Linked DNA regions of Homo sapiens: region 1 is linked to region 2. A link means that fine-mapping ties the variant in region 2 to the expression of a gene that starts in the linked region. Tissue or cell type: atrial appendage. Region 2 holds a variant in brackets; the other region holds the start of a gene. All regions are shown on one strand. Distances are from middle to middle.

Evidence for each region. PIP is the estimated chance that this variant, and not a neighbour inherited with it, causes the effect.
Region 1: PAK6 starts here. The variant in region 2 is fine-mapped to the expression of PAK6 in atrial appendage (GTEx, PIP above 0.99).

Annotation. Positions count from the first base shown.
Region 1 is chr15:40,234,127-40,242,211 of GRCh38, reverse strand. PAK6 (p21 (RAC1) activated kinase 6) reads right to left here and starts at 3,149. Exons shown (of 11, transcript NM_001395430.1): 1 at 2,410-3,149; 2 at 1,531-1,613. The region is part of intron 1 of BUB1B-PAK6 (BUB1B-PAK6 readthrough); the gene reads right to left. LOC107984763 (a long non-coding RNA gene) reads left to right here and starts at 2,511. Exons shown (of 3, transcript XR_001751506.2): 1 at 2,511-2,727.
Region 2 is chr15:40,270,369-40,278,468 of GRCh38, reverse strand. It overlaps BUB1B-PAK6 (BUB1B-PAK6 readthrough), which reads right to left. Exons shown (of 10, transcript NM_001128629.3): 5 at 5,748-6,245; 6 at 5,470-5,603; 7 at 4,997-5,123; 8 at 4,793-4,918; 9 at 4,193-4,327; 10 at 982-2,542. The coding sequence ends at 2,375. It overlaps PAK6 (p21 (RAC1) activated kinase 6), which reads right to left. Exons shown (of 11, transcript NM_001395430.1): 6 at 5,748-6,245; 7 at 5,470-5,603; 8 at 4,997-5,123; 9 at 4,793-4,918; 10 at 4,193-4,327; 11 at 982-2,542. The coding sequence ends at 2,375. ANKRD63 (ankyrin repeat domain 63) reads left to right here. Exons shown (of 1, transcript NM_001190479.3): 1 at 1-97. Among named protein-coding and RNA genes, the nearest start is that of ANKRD63, 8.6 kb to the left of the region's middle. RefSeq lists enhancers at 4,032-4,532, 5,254-5,755. The variant A/G (reference allele first, on the strand shown) is at 3,303.

The sequences.
Region 1 (8,085 bases), 36 kb after region 2:
GCTGGCATAAGAAGGCCAGCTGTCTGGAGTCCTCCCTGAGCCCTCAGGACCCCAGGCAGCCTTTTCCTTTCCTGCTCAGCCTGCCCTGGCCCCTACTCTCTGCTCCCTCCTGGCCCAACCTGCTGCCCGCTGCTGGCCTGCTGTCTACCTAGTGCTCGACAGCCTCCGCCCCTCTGACCCCAACTGGGCAGCAGCCCCTGCTCAGCTCTGCATGCATGGAAGACTCCTAGGCACAGAGTCACCTTTTGTGAGGCAGCATGAGATACCCCCACAGCTGGGTCATTCTCCTCATCCAGGAGCCAGGTGTGGGAATTCACTGGCATGAGAGACACTTATGGGTTCCTCCTGACTCTGAGCACATGTGCTCCTCCAGGGCAGGGGACTTTTTGGTCATCCTTAGGAGTTGTGCACAGAGCGGGCTTTCCTTGGCTGGAGACCCCACCCACTGCACCCTCCCTGTGTCTGGCAAGTCCGGGAGGGCCCAGAGCACTCACAAAGCATCAGTTTGTCCTCGGGGCACTGGAGAGGCCGTGCAGTCCCCACACTCCCCCTCTCAGGTGCACAGAGCTTCCATCCAAATCAGCTGCTCCCAGAAGGGCTTGCCTCTGGTGCCGACCCTTCCCTGACCAGGCGCTCTGTCACTAGGGCTCCCAGGTGCCACCTCCAAGCCTGGGCCAGGACAACCGCCAGGGAAGCCTGCCTGCAGAGGGGACTCCTTGCTTGCCCCAAAGGCCTCAACCCCAGCTAGATGAGCTCCCGTGGGGCTGAGTCCCAGGCCCACCAGGCCTGGGGGCCACACGGCTCCTAAGCTCATCCTCTCCTCCTGCAGCCCAGTTCCCACCAGAACCAGCCTCAGGAAGACCCCAGGCAGAACGGCACAAACCTCTTGGTGTACAATGCCAGGGAAAGGATAACTGGAGACCACAAGACGTTAGCCTTGCTTCCCGGTGGGGCCCAGTGCTTTATAAACCCGAGCTCACTGGGCCCGATGTCCCCAAAGCTGACCAGGTCATCCACCCTGCAGCAGGGGTGGGGAGACCAAGGCCTGTGAGGAGTGACCGTGCTTGGCCAGGCAGCTCCCTGAACCTGCCCTGATGCTGAGTTTCAGAGTCAGAATCTGTGCCAGGTCAAACCCAGCCAAAGGGTGTGACTTGGAGCCTGGGACCCAGCAGTGCTCCCTAAATATTTGTGGAATGAATACACAAGGGAAATGTCCCAGAGGTGGTAAAGTGAGAGGGGCCTTGGATAGGGGTGTCCCGGTGGCACTGGCTTGGCCCAGCTGGGGCAGGAAGAGTAGAAACAAGCACCTCTCCCTCTAGCTAGGGAGCCAGAGACCAGCTGGGATTGGACTGTTTCACAATCAATCTGGAAAGAAGGTGGCAGGCCGGGTGGGGAGTGGAGCCCCTTGACCCAGGAACCCACAGCTGTGGAGTTAGCCTCCCTGTCCCAGGTGGGAGGCAGCCTGGACACCTTGGCACCCCCGTCCCTAGCCCAGGAATCCGGAGCACGCAGCGGCAGTGGGGACCTTACCGTGGCTGCTCCTTCTGGGCAGCGGGGTCCTGCGTTCTCCACTGCAGGCTGGTGCTTGTCTCTAGCCCAGGAAGCGGCACTCCCTTCAGGCAAAATAGAAAAAAAAAAAAAAAAAAAAAGGAAAAGAAAACCTCAGTGCTTTTCTCACCCAGCCTCTTCTCTTGAAGGCTCCTGGTTGGTATTGTCCTGCCACTGTGGGCACACAGCCTCCCTCCCTCTGGCAGCTTACTCACTGGTGCCCGCAAAGCTGCCAGCTGTGTGGGGGAGAAGGGACCTCCCCCCTCCTCCTGACACACACTGGGGCATGCCCTGTGGGGACCAGGGGCTTGAGGGTGGCACCCGCTGGGTCCTGATCATGGGGAAGCCGTACCCTGGCCAGCACCCTTCTCACTGAATGTGTCCCTGTGAGCTCAGCAGAGACGCACATGGGTGCTGACTGGCCCTGCATAAGAGAGTGACATGGTTCTTGGTAGGAAGCTGTTTCCTTGGTACCCAGGCCTGCCAGAATGAAGGGGCAGCTGATGGGCTGTCCAGCCCCCCAGTGATGGGCTCTCACCCTGGCCAGCCCCTCCGGACGGCTTCCTACCTGGGCATCTTGCTGTGTCTCTGTCCTGTGCACCCAGACAGGGCCTGGGCCTGCCGGGGCTGGCAGCTGCTCCTCACCCTGCTCAGGCCGTGTGTCTGGCGTCCCCTCTCCCTGACGCCCATCTCAGGGCCTGCGCCCACCCAGCATCAGTTAGGATAAACTCCTGTCAAGCCCCCAGCCAGCTCTCTGCTGGACCCAGCTGCTGTCCCCAGCAGGGGGACGGCACACACACTGGCTTACACACTCTCGCACTCACACACACGTGGGTCCACACCCAACACAGAGCCACCTACCTGCCCAGGCCAGCCTAAGCCAATCCAGCCTCGCTCTCCAAATGCCACTCCGACCCCAGAAGCCACTCCTTTACCGAAACATCCCCGTGGGAGATGAGTTCAGAGCCAGCCCGGGAGGACTCCAGTCAGCTCGGACAAGACTGCCCTTCTGTCCCAACACCTCCAGAGGACACACACAGGCAGCCTGACCACCATATCTGCTATTGCACTCTGCCTGCTGCCACAGCCCCCCGGGCACTTCTGGCCCCCACAGCGTCTTCCATATCTTTAGGGGGTGGCAGCAGACTCACAGCAAGTCCCATCTTCCTGGAGCCCAAGGTAGGGAGGGGAGAGCTAGAAGGGGCGGGACTCAGGTGCAGCTCCAAGTTTCCAGCTCCCAAAATAATCAGATGCAAAGGAGAAGCAAGAACAGCTCGAGGCGGGCGGTGACTCAGTGCTAGTGGGCCGGCTTAGTCACCTGGATGGCTGCTGGCGGCTCCTGGCACATCAGGACGGGAGCAGCGCCCTCCCCCACCTGCCTGGACCGTGGCTGTCTCCAGAGTGTGGCCGCCGAGCCCCGCGCCCAGGGCTGCCTGGCAGGCGAGGCCGCTCCACCCCGCTCCCGCCCATCAGGGCCCAGCGGCCCCGGCTGCGGCGCGCCCCTCCTCCACCGCGCGCCCCGGCTCACTTTGGGATTTCTCCATTAAATCCTCAGGCATCGACCTGCTCGTTTGGGGCGCCGAGCTGCTCCAACGTTGCTTGGCAATTTTGATATCGTCGGGGGTTGCCATGGGGAGGAAGGTGATGTCATTGACACAAAAAACCCACTGAATTTACAAATCAGCTGGGGCTGGAGCTATTTATAAAAACACGTTTTTATCTGCCTTTCTTTGCTGAAGGGGAGGAGGAGGAAGGGCTGCCTGCCGGGCTCAGGGTGAGCCTCCCTGCTGTCCTTCCTACCCTTGCCCTAGAGAAGCCAGACCTCCTTGGCTCACCCCCACCCCCACCCCCCAGAACTTGGAGCTGCGCATTCAGATCTGGCAGGTGCTGGTCTCAGCTGGTTTTGCTTCGAAGGCTGAGAGTGGCACATGGGATGTAAGGCAGGGTGGGTGCTGGCTTCCTGGGCTGGCAGGGACCAGAAACCAGTTACTCAACCGGGTCCCTTTATTTCATTGCCCCTGGTCAGAAACAGAGGCATTTGCTGGTGAGGCAGCTTGAGCTCCTTGATGTGCCCCCCTGCCAGCTCCCCGGAGCGCCAGGTGGAGCCCAGCCTTCCACAGTGCCCTCCCCATCCCTAGCCTCAGTGTCTCCTCCACTGGCTTCTTTTCTTCTCCTAGTGTCCAATCGTGGGCTGCCCAAGCTCCAGGCTTGGTCCCCTGCTCATCTCTCCCCACACTCAGCCACCACTCCATCAAAACACCTTTTTTCTGTGGCTTTGACCATCACCTGGGCAAATGCTTGCCCGAAAACCCATTTTGTGCCTGCCCCACTTCAGGCGCCACCTCTGATGGCCCAGCTCCCACTGCCAGGACCCACTAGCTATTGACAGCCAGAGGGAAGCCTGGGAGTTCTTGCCTCTTCCCGTCCCCCAGTCCCTTATATCCAAGGTGGCACTTGGCTCTACATTTTATTTTTGAAAACTTTCTAACTTTCTTCTGTAGCGAAGCCATGTGGTGTTTGGTTAAAAGTCCAGGCTGTGAGTCTTCAGTCTTCCGCATCTCAGCTCCACTGTTCATCAGTTGAGTGACCTTTGGCATGTTATTGAACCAATTGAACTTCAATTTCCTCATCCATAAAATGGGGATGATTTCACCTGCCTCACAGGGCTGTGGAAATTAAAGGAATAAAGTTTCTGGCACAGAGACTGCTCATCTTGATCCCAATAAACATTAGTTTTTATCCACCCCTCCACTGATGGCAGATTAATCTTCCCAAATCATGACCCTAGGCACCTTCTGTGCAAAGGTCTCAAGCTGCATGCGTAGACATTTTGATTGAACGCAGTGTTAGATGTCATGGCATTAAACATAAGAATTTCAATTTGTGGCCAGGCACAGTGGCTCACGCCTGTAATCCCAGCACTTTGAGAGGCTGAGGCGGGTGGACCATGAGGTCAAGAGATTGAGACCAGCCTGGCCAACATGGTGAAACCTCATTCCACTAAAAATACAAAAATTAGCTGGGCGTGGTGGCACATGCCTGTAATCCCAGCTACTTGGGAGGCTGAGGCAGGAGAATTGCTTGAACCCGGGAGGCGGAGGTTGCAGTGAGCCAAGATTGTGCCACTGCACTTCAGCCTGCGCGACAGAGCGAGACTCTGTCTCAAAAGAAAAAAAAAGTTCAATTTGTGGTCAATATGAAACATTTTCCCTTTAACTAGGTTATCAGTTCCTTTTGGAGAGGAACTCTGTATTTTTCTTCTTTTTGTATCTCAATGTAATTTTGTGTGTAAACTTATAAATAATCCACTTCTGCTCTGTCTCACTAAGGAATGATCCAGGAAATGCAAACTAAAACAAAAGGGATATACCACTCCCTGTCATTATACAGTGAAAAAAAAATGGCAGGTGGGAGAGTGAATTGGTACAGTCTTCTTGGAGGGCAATTTTACAGTCTTGACCAAAATTTCAAAATGTGTATGTACTTGATCCAGCAAATGCACTTCTAGGAATCCAAGTTAAGAAATAGTTGCACATCGGCCTGAAGATATTTGTATAAGAATATTCATGGTAGCACTGTTTGTAACTGCAAAGAATTTGAAGCCACCAAAATGTGCATCAATTGGGCAGATTAATTGGGTGACAGATCTATACAGGATGGTACATCCCCATGCAATGAAGTATCTGCAGCCTTAAAATGAATGAGTTTTGTCAGTCGGTATGTATGTACCAGCTATGTGTGTACCGGTATGCATGTACATACGTATGTATGAGGAAGGATGACCACGATAGTTGAGCAAAAAGACCAGGTTTATCAATGTTAACTTGAAAATGAGATGGCATAATCTCATATAAGTTTTTTTATTTAAAGATATTTCTATATCTGTATGTTTAAACCGCAAACTGTCAATGTGGTTATCCTTGGAAATAGGAGTGGTGGTGAGAGGGGTCTTTCACTTTGGACTTTTTACACTCTTGCATTGTTTCAGTGAACATGTACTGTTGTATTTAAACAATACAAAAGTAAAAATAAAGGAATGTATGTTTTTAAAACTAATAATAGGCCAGACGCAGTGGCACACGCCTGTAATCCCAGCACTTTGGGAGGCCGAGGTGGGTGGATCACCTGACGTCAGGAGTTCGAGACCAGCCTGGCCAACATGGCGAAACCCCGTCTCTACTAAGAATACAAAAATTAGCTGGGTGTGGTGGTGGGCACCTGTAATCTCAGCTACTCAGGAGGCTGAGGCGGAGAATTGCTCGAACCCGGGAGGTGGAGATTGCAGTGAGCAGACTGTGCCATTGCATTCCAGCCTGGGCAACAGAGCGAGACTCAGTCTCAAAACAAACAAACAAACAAACAAACAAACCCTAATAATAGAAAACCAAGAGCTATGAAGAGTACCTAAAACTTGTATATTTGAACATTTTCCTCTGCAAAGTCCACTTTAAGGCAATGTGGGGATATGGAAAACACTTTTTCTTCCTTCATGTCTTTCAAATTTTCAGAAATGTTGTTAGAGGGAGGGGCAACATGAAGATGTGAAGGCACTAAGGCAGGAGATAGAGTTTATTACGTTAAATTCAAAACACTATCATCTTATTCAGATAATAATTACAATGACTCTCTTTAAGAAATGTAACATTTCTAAGTTTCTGCCAGTTTATGAGAAGCAGGCGGAAATTCCTGAAGAAACATCAACAATTTCATAAATCAAGAAAAATCATGTTTTCCAGATTTCTGCTATAGTAGCTAGCAGAGATAATAGCCATTTCATGAAAGGAACTGAGAACTAAACAAACCAGCTCTCCTGAATCTGCATCAGTCAGGTTCTCTGTTAGCCTGGAGAATCAAGTCCAGGACAGAAGCTATGGCAGTCCTGGGGTCTCTAAGCAACAGGACTGACTGCAGTCCCACAGATCACCCCTGCCTGGATGAGAGATGCTCCCACCATGCTGTCCACCTAGTGCATCCTTGCAGGGAAGGAGTCTGATTGGCTGGCTCAGGTCATATGCCTGTCTCTCAGGGAGGGTATCCTGGAGAGAGTGCTTCTGTTATCACACGATATAGGGAGGAAAGTTAGGGTGCTGTTACTAAACCAAAGGGGAATGGGTGCTGGAGACCAAAGGGGACCAGCCAATGATTGCCACAGCATCTTTGCCTCTTTTTCTAATTATTTTCAATTCCTGAGTGTGATAATCAGCCACTGTTGATATTCGATTCCTGTCTTGTGAAACTGATGGCCTGTGCAAACTGAGACCAGTTCCTCTATTCTATCATGTTTCTTGACTTCCTGATTTGATGAGAGGATCTGCAAATTTAGAACCATTTTTTCCACAGGCTGTAGAAAGGGGGGCTCCACCGGCCTGCAAAGGTATGGCTGCTGCTGCAGTGGGCAGGCCAGCAGATGCCTGTGTTTTTGGGCCAGTGGTCGGCCCTGGTGCTTAGCACATGGCAGGTGCTCATGTAAACTTTGTTGAAGGAATGAATGAACATCTTTAGAGGTTCTGTGCTCTAGCCACCCTCCTTAGAATGCGTGAATCCCAGAGCTGAAAGGCACTCTAGGGATATCAGCCCTGTCCCTCCTTCTACAGGTGAGAAAACCACAGCCCCAAGAGATTAGGTGACTCAGCAAAGCCTCAGAGAAAATTAAAGGCAGTCAGGAACTCAGCTGTTCCTCCTCACAGATCCATGAAGTTCCCTTTGCTGCCGACGGCAGCCCCATGCTAGCAGCAAGCTCTGAGTGTGACAGATCTGTAATTTGGACAAAGGCAGTGGTGGTGCTGTCACCACAGACATTTCTGCCTTTGAATCTTGGCTCCCAGGGATTTGCAGCCGCATGAATCAGTCAAGCCAGTGTCCTTACAATTTCTTAAAGTCTTTTACTGTGTTTTTGTTAATGGACATATACAGTACTTGCAGTCTCAAAAGTAATTTGCCTCACCTGCACCGTTTTGGTGAGTTGGATTCAGCTGGAACAACTGTTTATATCAACCTTGTCCCACTGCATGGTTTTAAAGAAACCATCTGGGGATGTGTTTGGAAAGGCCATGTAGCAATGAAGTTCTAAAAATTTTCATAAACTAGTGCTTCCCAAGTTTTCCTAAAGAATAATAAAAACTTTTAGAAACAAAGCCTAGGGCTCCAGTGTGTGGGTAAAATTCCTTTGCTGCCAAATTTTTCTAGATCTTTAGATGCTTCCCCACACTCCACACCCGCTTGTGCTGCATGTACAGAGGGTGCCTCACTCAGGCCTTCTGATGGGCCTGTCTCCACCCACCTACACTAGTCAGCGCCTCTCACCGCAGGGCCAGGAAGGGAGGAACAGATTCTGTTCTCCTTCCTTCCCACCATCCCAAGCCAGGGCAGGTTCCGGAAAGGAAGGGCTTGATTAATGAGCAGGTGTTGCCACTGAAGGCCTGTATATCCCACACTCCAGAGCTGGTCTTACCTTGGCGGCACTCGTCAGCCCTGCGCCTCCGGGAGAGCTAGGCCAGAAGCAGGGGCTCTACCTTCAAGAGATTTTTCTCAAGCTCC
Region 2 (8,100 bases):
TGAGACATGCACACCCTTTCAGAGTGATACTGTGTGGTGGAAGGACTGTTAGAACTCAAAGAATAGTTAATAAATCCAGTGTATTATTCCGTTGCGAGAACTGGCCTCTCTTTGCCTTATCAAGCACTCCTGACCCTCGGCTCCCTTTGGAGAGATGGACCGAGCCTTTGCCTCCTGTGGAGGCCCCTGCCTTAGTGAGCCTCCGCCCTGCCCGTCCTACTGTGCTGGCTCCTGAAGGTAAGTCACAGGTGCTGCTTCTGCTGAGCTGGGGGGACAGGCCGGGCCAGCCGCAGCACCAGGGCACCTGTCAGGGTGTGAATGCACTGGGGAGTGAAAGAAAGGCTGCATGGTTCCTTGCTCCTGGCTTGCTCCTGAATCCTGGGCAGTGGGAGATCTCAGGAAGGAAGTGCGGGAATCCGTGTGGGAGCTGGAAGTTGCAAGATAATTTCATCCACCTCCCCACCCCCAGAACGAAAGCCCAGGCTCCCTGGTTTCCAGGCTCTGCTCCGTTCTTTTTGAACCCCACACCATCTCCCTCAGTCCTGAGGAGTGAGGCAGGGACTGCTCTCCCACTGGAAGCGGTTTCAGACCACTTCCTATGGACAGCTGGAGGTCTGGGGTGGGGGTGAGGAGCGCGCAGAGGATGGGAGAAGCTGACACACAGGGTGGTCGTCAGCCACTTCGGCCACCCCCCGCAAACGCAGCGCAGGGCCCTGGCTTTCCTTGTGGGCTCTTCTCCCCTGGGGAAGTAGCCCCGTCTATTTTTCATCGCCTTCATTCCCAAGGGCCTTTCACTTCCTGTTTCCCTTCCTCTCTGCCCTCCTTTCGGGTCCACAGGCCACCAGGGAAGTTGGGTGTTCTGTGGTGTGGCTGCTGGAGAGCTCACGTGGGGAGGAGGGGAGGCTACACGAGATTCACCCGCCACAGGAGACCCCCCTCCAAGACGGCCGGTCTCCGCTCCCAGAGACACAGGAAGCCCAATGGCTTTGAACACTCAATTTAATTTAAAACAGGCACAAGTGCAAACAATTCACAAAAATTTCTAGGGAAGATGCTTTTGTTTTGAAAACTCTGACCCTTAAAAAAAAGTCCTTGCAATTTCTTTGCCCCCAGGTAGGTCACTAGGGAGCAGAAGAATCTAAAAATATTATCTAGATAGAAAGGGTCCAGACACCTGAAGTTCTTTCCTGGAATTCCATCTCACAGCAGCCCTGAAGTGGGGCAGGGCCGAGGAGGACAAGGAGACAGCAGTCTGTGGAGGCAGCTGGGGCAGATGGTTTGCACACATGGATGCCTGTGACCTTGACATGATGGAAACCCGGAGGTGGTTCGCCTTCTCTCCCAGATAGGGTTCTGAAGAGAACAATGGGTCCCTGATGACCTGGTTATTGAGATAAACTTGAAAGGTAACACAGTTGCCAATCCTTACATTCCTGTCTCTGGCCCTCACGATGCACAGTACAGGAGAAGCTCAGAAGCCTCCTGAGCTCCCAGGAGTGTTAGACTTAGCATGGACCACTCCACTGGCCAGGTAGACACAGGAGTGGAGAGGTGGAAGCCAGGCCAAGAAAGCAGGTCCCTTCAGGCCAGAACTTAGTGGGAGAGAGGGGCAGCCTTCCTGAAACTGGCTGTGGGTGACCTGGAGGGACCTGGGCTGTCAAGGTGGCTTTCCTCCCCTTACACACACACACACACACACACACACACACACACACACACGATGTTCTCTCCATTCTGTAAAGTGAGAGCACCTTCACCACCGACCCCATTCTTTCTCTTTCACTCAGAAATTGTCCCCTCACTCCCTGCCCCCAGCCATGGCCTGGAGCAGGCCATTCACAGTTCTGGGCGGGGAGGGGCTGTACAGGTGGGACTGCACCTTCAGGACATCAGACGTGAGGGAGGAAGCGGGATTCCGGTCATAAAAACCACCCCGTGGCCCTCTCGAGACTCGAGGTTTGAAGCTGGAGCTGAGAACAGCAGGTATCTGTGGAGACCAGCAGTCTGCCCTCTGCAGTGGCCTAGGACACTAGTGGACAACTGCCTTTAAAAAACCACAGCAGCCTTTTCTACTGTGTTGGCTGCAGAGGCCAGGAACGCTGGCCTCTGCGTTTCTTAGAAATATCCCTGTGCAAATATCAAGGGGTCATCCTGTAGAAAGGGGTCTCCATCTGGGGACTCGGGAGGGAGAGACACTGAGGGGGCAGGTCCGGCCTGGCCCAGTAGGCTGAAGGGCAGAGGGTGGGGCTGGGGCTTCACATTTCAATCTTTGGAGAGAATACTGAGAGGAGGAGGCAGGCAAGTCCTGCCGGCAGGCTGGCTGCCCAGTGTGCCCTGCCTGTGGGCGTAGGTGGCAGGCATACTTGGGGTGGGCTCAGCAGGTGGAGGTCTGCTTTCGGTAGAGCTGGATCAGGGGCACCAGGCACTCAGGTAGCCCTGTCTGCAGCAGGAAGGGGTGGTCTAGGAGCTCCTGGGCTGTGGCTCTCTCTTGGGGGTCCCGCACCAGCATCCGCTCCAGGAAGTCTCGCAGCACTGGGGAGACCTGTAGAGGCAGGGCAGTAAGATGAAGCCACAATTTGCAGTCACTTCGGGGTGACCTGATTGCCTGGACTTATCATTGTTTGAAAGTCATGAATTCGCTGGTTTTTTAACTTCCTGTTCCCTTGTCCCTCCCCACCCCCTCAAGGCTCTCAGCATTCAGATGCTATAGCTCTGTGGAAGGGGCAGAGGATTGGCATCAGTGATCCAGATCTGGCTCTATCCGTGATCTCAGGCAAGTCACAGTTTTCTCTAGGCCTCAGTTTTCTCATCTGTAAAATGGGCTAGTGATAAAGTATGCTTGCCCTGTCTGCCACATAGGGCTTTTGAGATTTTAAAAACAGGTCGCTGGGCGCAGTGGCTCAAGCCTGTAATCCCAGCACTTTGGGAGGCCAAGTTGGGCAGATTACGAGGTCAGGAGTTCGTAGACCAGCCTGACCAACATGGCGAAACCCTGTCTCTACTAAAAATACAAAAATTAGTTGAGCATGGTGGCACGTGCCTGTAATCCCAGCTACTCAGGAGGCTGAGGCAGGAGAATTGCTTGAACCCAGGAGGCGGAGGTTGCAGTGAGCTGAGATCGCACCACTGCATTCCAGCCTGAGCAACAGAGAGAGACTCCATCTCCAAAAAAAAAAAAAAAAAAAAAACCAACAACAACAGAAACAAACAAGTCAAGGATGAGGAAGTACTCTGAAAAATAGAAAATAAAGTGAGACCTGAAAAGGAAGATTTCTTTGTTGCTCTAGGCCTTAAGAGTCTAA[A/G]GCAAGGGCTTATCTTGGTTCATTTTGAGCCAGTATCTTGGGATGAGGCTGAGTCTTGGGCAGAAGGCTACATCCTCTGAGGAATTAGCCAACTGGAGATCTTTATATGCTAATTTTGGGGTTAGCGGTGCGGGCTCCAAGGACCAGTTGTCTTGGAAGATGTTTCCTGTTGGTCCTCCCATCCAGCTTTGTGTTGGGGCCACAGAACTCTTGTTTTTTTGCTATTTTAGAGGAGAGGCTTCAGCCCTCTGAGACATTTCTTGTTTTGGCCACCAGATGGCGGTGCCACTTAGCAGCCCCGTGCTGACCTGCCAGCAGGGGGCGTCCACAGTAAGGCCTGCGGGGTTGGGGCCGATTTGGCAAAAAGGGTTACATGTATACACTTCCATGCACTTATACTGGCTTTAAGGGGAACGCTGTGGCTTAGCTGTGTCGGGGTGTGCAACGATGGAGCATGAGCCGACTCGCCGTGATGGACAGGGACATCGAATCATGGTATGGATCTCCCGACACGGGTTAGAAGGGTTTGTGCTCAGTGAAGCTTCTCCGGATCCCTCCCTGGACAGCAGGGATTGCTGGTGTCCTGGCTTTCCCTGCTCATGGGCCCCACTGGGCTTCCGACCAGTGCCTGCCAAGCAGCAACCCTTCTGCCAAGCAGCAACTCTCCTGCCACAGCCGTGGGAGGCGACTTGTCGGAGCGCACATGCGAACTTGTGCGTAGATGCGGCTCCACACCCAGGTGCGGGTTTTGTGTGGGGAAAGAGGAGCCTTTTCCAGGAGCCCAGACCCTGTGGCTTCAGTGGAAGGGAGATGCTGGGAGCCCAGGTTCTGGTCCCCTTGCCTCAGGAGGAATGGGGTCTGCGAGGTCGCACCCTTGTGTGCCAACTGACCTTGTGAGAGTTTTTCAGCTTGGGTGGGGGGCTGTCCCGGAGCCTCTTCATGGCTTGCACTGGGGAGTCACTGAAGTACGGTGGCTCCCCATCTACCATCTCAATCACCATGATGCCCAGAGACCAGATATCCACCTGCAGGAGGAAAATGTCCCTGACCCCATGGCCAGACCCTGGCCCATTGGTAGCTGCGTTCTGGTGGCAGCAGTGGTGGAGGGGGGACAGCTGGCCCCAGCTCTCCTTGGTGGGTCTGTCTCCTTCCTCCCCTGGTCACCTGCCCTGTGGCCAGTTACTGCCTGCATGAGTGACCACTGCCTATAGGGACACAGCTGTCAGTCACTCAGAGAAAGGCCATCATACATAGGAGGCCCGGCCATACCCCATTCTGCCCTTGAGCTGAGGAAAGCACTTGCAGGACTCGTTCCTGGCAGCAAAGTCACTGGGTAAGAGCAGCCCCATCGAAAGGGGGAAGGGTGTTGACTAGGTGGGACTCTGAAAACCAGGGCTGCTTTTGGTGAGCTCACTGGAGGGGCCACAGCAGAAGAGCTGCCAGTTGCCAAGTTGCTTTTGGGAGGTCTGGGGGGTGGAGGGAACGGTTACCTCAGTGGCATACAAAGACCTGGAGATCACTTCAGGAGCCATCCAGTAGGGGGTTCCCACCAGGGACTTCCTCTTAGGGACGTCTTTGCTGATCTGAGCACAGAATCCGAAGTCCGAGAGCTTCACCTGCGGTTGAAAAGGGAGTGAGTGGTGGATCAGGAGGAAGTGGGAGCGTGGCTGTGCCAGGGACAGGATGGGACCTACCCTGCCATCGAGGGTCAGCAGGATGGAGTCACTCTTGATGTCCCGGTGGATGACACCCTGAGCATGCAGGTAGGCCAGGGCCTGCAGCACAGCCTCACACACAGTGGCAATCTGCTCCTCATTCAGCCTGGACAGGAAGGTGGGGCCACCCGATGAAAGAGAACGTTAGCTCTGGCAGGTCGTGGGGTGGCTGAGCAGAGTAGGAGTCCCTGGTGCTAGGCCCCACAGCTCCCAGGCAATCTGTTTGGCAGCACAGTCAGGCCATAGCCCTGGTGAAAACTGGGGCCTGAGCTTTGGCTAGAAGCTATCCTTCTCTTCTCCACTCCCAAGACCCCTGGGTCTCAGTTACCCCAGCAGGCAGGGGAGCCCAGGCATCCCAAGTCTTCTGGGCCACAGGCAGAAGACCACATTGCCCTGGCAGGGCCATGGTGAGGGCAGCCTGCACTCAGGGTCCAGCCCTCCCAGCTGCCCACCTGACTTGGGAGACGATGTCTGTGAGGGCTCCTCCCTGCAGGAACTCCATGAGCACCCACAGCTCCTCGCCCACCAGGTAGCTCTTGTACATCTCCACCACGTTGAAGTGCTGGTAGTCCCGCATGATCACCACCTGGGGGCAGGCGGGGGCCTGAGTGCCAGGCACAGTGCCCAGACGCATGGCCACCCACTGCCCCTGCTCACAGATGTCCAGCCTGGCTGGCTGCTCACTGCCCATCCCCAACGCCCCCGTCTGTGTCCCACCCTGTCCTCCCACCTCGTTGAAGAGCAGCTCCCTGCGCTGCTGCTTCCTGAGGTCCATCATCTTGACGGCCACCTGGCGGCCCGAGTGCTTCTCCCGGGCCAAGCAGACGATGCCGGTGGAGCCCTCGCCAATCTTCACGTAGCTGTCCAGCAGCAGCCGGGGGTCACCCTGGTCCACCACCATCCTGAGCGCAGCCTTGAACTGCTCATGTGTCACAACACCTGTGTCCTCACCAGCCAGGGCACCCTTGGCAACCGTGGGGTCCTGGGGCAGGTACAGGTTGCTGGTGCTGATCTGGGCGTGCCAGGTGCGGGGGGATCCCGCTGGGGAAGACCGGCCTGGAAGCTGGCCTGTGGCCGGGGCTGTGCGGAGGGACTTCTGGGGGCTGCTGGTATCCGAAGTGGTCAGAGGGCTGAAGGTCCCCACCGGCTGGTCCGAGGGCAAGGACTGGGCCTTGGCCACCAGGCTTGGGGGGTTGTCTTTCTGCGGCGGTCGGAAAGAGGAGTTGGGCTGCAGGGACAAAGCAACAGGAAGGGTCAGGGCTGTGGGAGCATTTGGAATAACCTTCCCGGAGGCAGGGGCTGGCCGCCGTGACCTCTGGACTCTGGCAGGGTCAGGCGGGGTATCAGATCAAACTAGGGAGGTGCTCTGAGCAAAGATTTTCAGACAGAGCTGAAGCCCAGTCACAGTCCTGTGCCAGCAGTCCCCCGCAGGGCACCAGGCTGGGCAGGCCCAAGACAGCTCCTTACACTCGCTCTGCTGCACCTGGGAAGACAGAGAAGGCCAGCTCCCCGCCGGGTCCTGCGCTGGGTATTTCTTCCTGGGCGATTGACAGCTAGACCCCAGGGAGGCTGCCGTGAGGCAGACTCTTCCTCTGAGCTCAGAGGCTGCTTGAAGAATCTGGGTCAGAGGCATTCTTCACTCCCAAGGCTCCCCCACCCCAGGACCCATGGGGGCAGAAGAGGCCTGGCAGTGGGGTGGGGAGCAGTGGGCAACTGTGTCTCCACTCCCTGAACCAAGGCAGGGGAGCCACACCTGGGGCCCGATAGCCCTGCCTGTGCCTGCAGCAGGGAGTTTGCAAATCTGTGCTGGGAGGTTATGTCCCTGACAGAGGACCACAGAGGTGTGTCACCATCTGGGGGGTTCTCAGGTGTCTCCCCTGGGCTGGGAATCTGGTGCCAGAGAGATCTGGAGTTAGGAGGGTAGGTCCAGCCAAACCCAAGCCTTGAGGCCAGGGATGGGGAGATGTCTTAAGGACCCCCTAAAGGAGTCCTTCCACTTCCTCCCTGGCATGAAACTCCTGGCTAAGGAGCCCCCGGGAGGGAGGAGAAGGTAGGGGGCCTATCCTCATTGGCTCTGGCAGGGAGGGAGGAAGGGAAGGTGGAGCTGAGGGGCAGCCTGGGCCCCCAGTGAGCCCTGCTCAGGCCCAGCCCTGGAAGCCTGCGAGGCTTCTTGCTTTTCCGAGCCCAAGCCCTTCTGCTCTTTCTGACAGGAAAGGTGCCCGCCCATCTTTGGGTTCTCCCCAAGGAGCGGTGATATGCACCATGACCCCTCCCAGGGATTACGTGTTTTTAAAGGGCACCTGGAGAGGGATGCTTCAGGGGATGCAGAAAAAGCCTTCTAGGAACTTCTCCAAACCCATCATGTAAGCCATTGTCTTAGGTGCCCAGTGGGTCCTGGTCCTGATCCCATAGCTGAAACAACTTACAGGAAATCTCAAGCAGTAAGTTTGGGCTGGGATGCTTGCTCAGGGACCCCAAACCCCAAATCTGGGCCTTGGGCCCCACCAGAGTCTTTTCAGTGTCTTTGGCAACCCTCACTCCCTTCCTTCCCCGACCCCCCGCAGCTTCAGGGCTTCTACTCTCCAGCCAAGTCCCTGGCCTGCTTAGGGTGGAATAGGCACTCCTGCTGGCCGACAGCCATGCTGGGGCAGACTTCTGCCACCCCCACACCTGCCTGCCCACCCGAGTGTGTGCTTGACCTTCACAGGAAAGAAGCTAGCAATCCTCCCAGGACTGCCTGGACTCACTCCATCCCTGATGAGTACATTTGGACAGTAAACATTCTCCCATGTCCTCGCCAGCACCTGACTGTCACCATCCACTGTGACACTGTGACACTGTCACCATCCACTGTGTAGTGGAGCAGTGGGACCCCTGGACTGGGCTGTCAGGACCTGGGGCCCAGCCCTGGGCTGCTCTGCCCTGTGATGAGCCTTAGGCAAGTCATCCTCTCTGAGCCTGTCTCCACTACAATGCAGGGACGTGTGCAGAGATCTGGGGAGCTAGAGAAACCGCAGACTTCCCGCCTCAGAGCCTGATTCGGTGGGAGCCTAGAGCAGAGACTGCATTTGAACAAGGTCCCT